Homo sapiens: one gene and its partner. The protein of the gene in region 1 purifies or fractionates together with the protein of each later gene. This does not show direct contact. Each region holds a gene or a part of one and is shown on either strand. Other genes may lie near its edges. The genes, in order: NAA16 and TCEA1.

Evidence for each region.
Region 2: the proteins of NAA16 (region 1) and TCEA1 fractionate together in Homo sapiens (co-fractionation; one large-scale study listed by BioGRID). This does not show direct contact.

The regions. Positions count from the first base shown.
Region 1 is NC_000013.11:41,366,597-41,370,422, reverse strand, and holds part of NAA16 (N-alpha-acetyltransferase 16, NatA auxiliary subunit), read right to left. Parts: intron 2,985-3,826; coding exon 2,771-2,984; intron 1,334-2,770; coding exon 1,140-1,333; intron 1-1,139. UniProt on the Homo sapiens protein: Auxillary subunit of the N-terminal acetyltransferase A (NatA) complex which displays alpha (N-terminal) acetyltransferase activity.
Region 2 is NC_000008.11:53,984,393-53,988,218, forward strand, and holds part of TCEA1 (transcription elongation factor A protein 1), read right to left. Parts: coding exon 3,722-3,826; intron 2,634-3,721; coding exon 2,577-2,633; intron 126-2,576; coding exon 1-125. Other genes in the region: LYPLA1-TCEA1 readthrough, read right to left, coding at 1-125, 2,577-2,633, 3,722-3,826.

The DNA of each region.
Region 1 (3,826 bases):
TAAATCCTGGTGTTCGCTTATTTTCCTTACTAATAGATGTCCTTTGTGGCTTTTATTTTTTCCTGTGATAGAGCACTTTTTTTCTACATTAAAAACCTGTTCAGGCAGATACCTCTTCTCCTCAATGATTTTCTCAATGGCATCTGGAACTTCTCTGCCAGCTCTTGGTGAGAAGTTAATTCTTCTGTTATCTGGACATTTTTTAACCCAAACATCTTTCTAAAATTATCAAACCATCCTTTGCTGGACCCTCAAAATTCAAACCTATGTTGTTCAAAGGCCAACTGTACTAGACTTACAGTGAATAAACCAGAAAACTAAATATTTCCTTAAATCTGATCCCAAAACAACTATTAACACTTGAGAAAATCCTGGAGGTGCTATCTCTTTGTAGCTACAACATTTCTAGTAAGACATATAAGGTAAAATGATTCCATATGTAATGGACAATTGTATTGCTGCTGTAACAAATTACCAAATATTTATTGACTTAAAACAACACACTTATTATGTTATAGTTCTTATAGGTTAAAAGCCCAACACAGTCTCACTGGGCTTACAATCAAGGTGTCAGCAGGACTGCATTTCCTTTGGAGATTCGAAGGGGGAATCCGTTCAATGCCTTTTTCAGCCTCTCTAGACTGCCCACACTCCTTAGCTTGGGGCACCCTCCTTCCATCTTCAAAGCCAGCAACAGCAGGTTGAGTCCTCCTCACATTGCATCATTCTGACCTCTGCTGCTGGCATCCTCAACTTTTAAGGCCCCTTTTGACGATATTAGGACCACATGGACAATCCAGGCTAATCTATCTTGAGGTCAATTCATTACAACCATAAATTCCATCTCCCACCTTAATTCTCCCTTGCCATGTAAGGTTACATATTCACAGGCTGGGGGGACCAGAACACAGACACCTTTGCAGGGCCATTACTCTGCCTACCACAATTGCAATTCTATGTATAACTTGCATTAGCCAAAATTTGTATACTGTCACTCAAAGATAATTGACGGCTATTATAAAAACCTTGAAATATTTCAAATGGCTTCTTACAGATTTAAATAAATCATGTTAACTGTCAGAACGGAACCAAATAGCATAAATTTTACCAAATAACAAAGATAGTAAAACCCATCTCACCCTTTCTAATTTTTCAGGTATAAGTTCTTCCTTAAGGCCACTGGCTTCTTCTTCTTCTTCATCTCTTTTTTTCTTTTGATTTTTCTGTTGACGTTCTCTTTCTGCATGCTTTCTTTCTTCTTCTAGTTTAGCCTTTTTCTGAGCTCTTCTCTGCTTGCTAAGCATTTTCTTCAATTCTTTGGCTGACAAGTTTTCTATAAATATCCAAATGAACAAAATTCTGAGCCAATGTTTGCATTTTCTTCATATTCTTCTGTAATACATACTGTTAGTATGGTTGTCCCTTGGTATCAGTGGGGGATTGGTTCATGACCCCCACCCCCACAAAGTCCACTGATACTCAAGCCTGTGATATAAAATGACACAGTATTTCCATACAACCTATGTACATCCTCCTGTATACTTTTAATTAGATCAGCTTTAAATCTTTCACCTTCCTTTTGCTTTAAGTTGCATATAATGACTTCACTTTTTCATAAATTATATTATGGTCTATAGGTATGCCTAAAATAATGTAAATGCTATGTAAATAGTTGTTACACTGCATTGTTCAGGAAATACTAATAATGACAAGAAAAAAAGTCTGGACATGTTCAGTACAGATGCAATTTAAAAAAACATATTTATGATTTGTTCCACCCATGTGGAACCCACAAAAATGGAGGGCCAGCTGTATACTTTTTTTTTCTGTTTTTTGTCTGGGCAAGGAGGGATGCAGAGGCAACCCATATAAAAGCTTTTAGAAAGTGTATCCCCAGTGACTAGAACAAAATTGGGCACACAAAGGACAGCCAGTAAATGTTGCATTAACTAAAATTGACCAATAGTAGCCCAGTTCTGCCTCCTACACAATATATGACTCCAGGCAAATCACTTTGTCCTTCTCAGTATCAAGTCTTTCAAGAATAAGTGAGATAATACATATAAACACCTGTGATCTCTAAATACTATATAAATATTAGAAATGAACAGCTACCTAGGAATATCTGAGATAGTTACCTAGGCTCATTTCATGCTAACTATTTCTCAAATATTCCTAGATATTAACATTCTAGTGAATAAAAAACTGTACAGATATTCTCACTGATATTCTTATTTTTAATAAAGTAGGAACTAGAAATTTTAAGATTATATATTTTTTCCTAAGGAGCTCAAAGCTATTTTCAGTTACAATTTTTTAAAAAAGAAAGAAAAAAACTAGTCCACAGACATTTCTATGTTTCCTAAACTCGTCTTTTTAAAATTTTTGTAGCGACAGGGGTCATGCTATGTTGCCCAGACTGGTCTTGAACTCCTGGCCTCAAATGATCTGCCTGCCTTGGCCTCCCAAAATGCTGTGATTACAGGCGTGAACCACCATACCCAGTTCTTAAATTGGTCTTTCTGAAGACAAAAATAAAAAAAATTCTAAGTTGTTCCATTAAAGTAATTTAGAACCATCAGCTACAGAATATCATCCCACTTTTTTTAACTCTCTCTGCAACATTTTTGTTTTTTGGCATATGAGTTATCTAATGTTTGTCTTCAACTCCAACAGACAATATATTAATATTTTTCTAGGTATTGTTTACGCTAATGGCATTCTGAAATTTAGTGTCCTTTTAAAATCTTTTAAGTTCCTATTCAGTTACCTGAGTTTATTTCTTGTTGTTTGCTTTCATTGGTTAAGGGATTATCATACAATTTCAAGTATATTTCAATCGCTGATCTAGCAGCCTTGAAATAAAAGGCATGTCTTCTGAGTATATCTTCTAATCTCAAAAGGTCAACATAGGCACGAAGGGTCATCTTTCTCATGCAGTATGTATGGAAGTCGAATTGGTCATCAGTTATCTCAAAAAAATGCTTAAAAACAAAAATCACAAAATTAACCTTTACATTTATGTCAATAATGTCTACCTTTAGAAAAAAAAAATTGTAAAAAGCCCAAAAAACAATTTAAACAGTCACAATTTTCACTTAGCTGCCCTCTCCAATGTTTTACACTATAAAGGATATGAATTATTTTTGGCATTCAACTTGAACTTTCTCTTCCTACAAACCATGCCCATTCCCTACAAATCATGTTTTGTGATGATACTCAACTTCTATATAAGTCAAAAGATCAGGTTATTTTTTAAACCTGAAAGTTAGTATATATTAATATTTTAGTTTTAATGAAATACTCTTCCTCCATATTCCCTAAAAACCAGCATGGCACAGTTAAACAGAGCTCTGAATGAAGACTAAATATGTGTAGGTTCACACTAAATATTTACAAATCTGACTGCTCTACTCAACTCTACCATTTTCAAGGGCAATCCTTACCCACCGCCTGCCACAGGGCCTAATACATAGCAGACATTCAGTAAGCACAGTATTTGCCCACTCAAGAGATAAGCTTCTTATTAGGGATGCGACCCTGAATAAGCCTTTTAATTTCCTAGACAATTATTTAATCTAAGTTAAGAATAAAGAAATCCATACAGCCAATTTCTTAAGGTTGTTAAAGGATCAAATAATGTATTTTAAAGTTCATTTTCAACAGTAAACTGTTATATAAATACAGAACTTTATTGTTTTCTCTTACTCTACCTACATTCCATTTTAGCAGAAGTTCTGAAACTGGAGTCTATGTATAAACAAGCATAAAAACTTCTTCCTAAGGAGAGAGCTCAAAGCTTTCATCCAATTTTCAATGGATCCAT
Region 2 (3,826 bases), on another chromosome or scaffold:
AGGAATATTCCCACAGAGGACATTTTTCCTTAAATTTGGATTTTTTGCATCTTTAAGATTTGATATCCTACTTCGTACTCTATTTTTGTATTTCATGTCTGTATTCCTTATTTCTTGATATATAGGTACCAGGCCGTTAAGGAAAAAAGGCAAAATTACAAAAGTAAGATCACTTTTTTTTCCTGTTCTGCCAAAATAAGAATTCCTGAGGCCAGGCACGGTGGCTCATGCCTGTAATCCCAGCACTTTGGGAGGCTGAGGCTGGTGGATCACGAGGTCAGGAGATCGAGACCATCCCGGCTAACATGATGAAACCCCGTCTCTATTAAAAACACAAAAAATTAACCAGGCATGGTGGCAGGTGCCTGCAGTCCCAGCTACTCGGGAGGCTGAGGCAGGACAACCACTTGACCTGGGAGGCAGAGGTTGCAGCGAGCTGAGATCAGGTCACTACACTCCAGCCTGGGCGACAGAGGGACACTCCATCTTAAAAAAAAAAACAAACCTGAAATTTCTAAGCAATTCACGACAACTGTTTCCAATTTAGAGTATGTTAAAAACAAGGTACTATATCTAATTCCTTGAGCTGTAATTGGCGAATAATAGTGATATTACTTTTACACTGTAAAGTAGTTGTTTGTTTTGAAGGTGGGTAGAAGGAGTCTCACTCTGTCACCCAGGCTGGACCTCAGCTCACTGCAACCTCCACCTCCCGGGTTCAAGCAGTTCTCCTACCTCAGCCTCCCGAGTAGCTGCTGCGATTATAAGCGCCTGCCACCATGCCCGGCTAATTTTTGTATTTTTAGTAGAGACGGGGTTTCACCATGTTGGCCAGGCTGGTCTCAAACTCCTGACCTCAGGTGATCCACCCGTCTCGGCCTCTCAAAGTGCTGGGATTATAGGCGTGAGCCACCGCGCCCGGCCTAGTCATGTTTTATTTCCTAAATGTTTAGTGCCAGCAGTATGCAAGTCAACAGGGTTTCAAAAAGTAACTCAAGTACTCAACATGAGAAAGCACATGTTTGAAAAGGAGCTTGAACTTATTCAAGCTTTACTTGCCCAAATCCGAATTCTACTAAGGATCCTAAAGTCTCTCTGGTCACACAGTTCCCACAGGGTCTCTGAGAAGAGACCATTCAGCATGGCCGTGAGGGTTCCTCTCCTCCCCCAGCTCAGCAGGAGCTACCTCAGCAGGCTCTTCTTCTCTGCAGAAGAGGCCACTGCCAAAGCTGAACCCTGGAACAGCTCCCTTCCTAATAAGGCCATTTCCTCAACCAGGACAATCTCATGTTACACAGCCACCTAGATGCTCCCTGCCCCTACTCACACACAGTACCCCTCTCCTGGAGCCCTTTCCCGGTGCTTAGCAAGAACACGCTTCCTCTGGGATAATGAGCTCAGGTGACTGTGTGTGCTCTGAGGTCCCCCTAACTGAGAAGTCTTCACATTTATATGTGTGTGCTTTCCATGCCCTTTTGCACAACTTAAATTCAGACACTACAGTCTCAATCTACAAGGCAGAAAAATTTAAATGTCATAAATGCCATCAATACTGTACTTTCCTTTTCAATAACAGGAAAAACAAGACAAATAAAATGACATAGATGTCCCTCTCCTTTCCAAGAAAACAATACAATCAAGATAAAAAGTGAAGAATAAGACTTTGAATTCTATACCAACAGGAAAAATTAAGCTAGCAGATTACTTAAAACAATTATGACCACTTGAAGTTGTGTGACACCAAGAGACCTTTCTGGCTGGTAGCAGAAGTAATAGATGTCACTCCTCAGCAGTAGTTTTGAAAGCCAGTATGCAATTTATCCATTTTACCTTCTGCCACATCACCACTCACAATGGCCAATCCACCTGCCTGGTCCTAGAGGACAATGACCCAAAGCCCAGAGTCCTCAGCTAGCCTGTGATGAACATATAGGACAAATACATTCCTGTTTGTCCAGTTTAATCTGTGAAAGAAACCTCTGTGGTGTTAAGCCACTGAAATTTCAAGGTTGTCACCATAATATAACACAGCCTGTCCTGCCAAGTACATAAAGTCAATCTTGGACACTCATGTTTTGCTAGGAAAGCGAAATTCTTTAGGTTTTCAAATTGCCAACGAGATACACCCAATGTTCTCATGTATTTTGTAATCTCTTCTAATTATGTTATCGGTTTGCCTTTCTTGTTCTCAATCATATTTTCACTCTCCTGCTATCTGAAGCAATTTTACTAGGGATTTATATGTTTCAGTTTCCAAAGAGCCAGGTCCTTTTAAACTTCGCTGTTTCTAGTTCATTCAGCTTCAACATGAAGGAAAAAGTCTAGCGTGGTGGTCAAGGTCATGGGCTTGGAGCCAAATTCCCTACAATGGAATCCCAGCCCTGTCAGTGTCAGGCTGTGTGATCTAGAACAATGACCAATCCTCTTCTGCTTCTGTTTTCTCTCTGTAAAATGGGATGAGAGCACCTAATTCATTGGAAGGACTACTGCATGTAAAACCGTGCCTGGCATTTGCATATGTTCAATAAATATTACTTATTAAAAAAAACAATTATGAATATACACACAAAGGATATCTTCTTCAATTTGAGATCCTAATTCTTCCTCATCAGCTCCAATTGCAATGTAGTCATCTAAAAATAGGCATAAAGAATTGTCAAATTATTGTAACAGATTAAAAGAAAATTCTAATACCAGGTAATTAAACTGCATTCCTATTTCTTAAACCCCATTTGCCTGACATAAAGAAACCGTTCAGTTTAGTTCGTTAGAATCTGATCACTTCACTGCCCGCTAGACTTCTTTTCTGGGCTTCACCTGATACCCACAGTGCTCCTGCACTGATGATTCCTGATCCCTCAGGCACAGGAAGTAACTGATCTAGCAGGCAATTCATTTTTCGTAACTCCATAAATTCTGGCTGCTCCAGCAGAGTAGAGAAAGTTACAGAAAGAACTGTCTAGTCTCCTGTGACTCAGGCTTCAATGCAAAGAAATCATTTAGTTAATCTGCCAATCACATATACAGACACACTCAGAAGACTGCTATACAAATATGCAAGAGGATAGAAGGAAATAAACTAGGCAGAAAAAATAAAAGAGACAGTCAGGAAATCAAAGTAGAAAGGGCAGAGTAAGGAGAAAATCAGGTCAAACTAGCCATGGTGCAGAATGAGAGAAAAGAAAAAGGATGAATTCGTATAAAATAACAAATATTCCTGTATATAAAACTTTAAATCCAAATGTTACATGTTAAGACTGGATACTTTCAAATTAAATTAAGCTCCCATATATAAATCAAGACTCACCCTCCCTTTTTCTAACTAGAAAATGGAAAACATTCATACTATATGTCATACTATTCAACAATTCAGTATTGTTAACTCTCAATATAAGATCAGGGTATGTAGTTTGCAGATTAAATTGTGGGGAAACAAAAGATTTGTGAGAAAAAAGTGTACATTACTATGAAATCAGGGAAAACATCCATGTATTAGAGGGAATCTATTTCTTACAATTACATAGTAATAAGCAAATGCCCCAGTATTCCTCCTCCTCTCCCCCTTAACAGACCCGTATCAGCAACAACTTCTCCCCAAGCTAAGCAGCAGTGGGTGGGCTATCCACAGGGTAACACTCATCAAACAGCAATATGGAGTTGGAGATGGCAGTGGTTGTGGGTGGTGACCAAAGGACTGAGAAATAACATGCACTGGACTTACCCCCTGTTCGAAGAGCTGCAGCAAGCATCTCCCTACACTTCAACCGCACAGAATCAGAAGTGCTTGGTGCCCGAGGAAAGGATGAAACATAAGTATCTCGAGCAT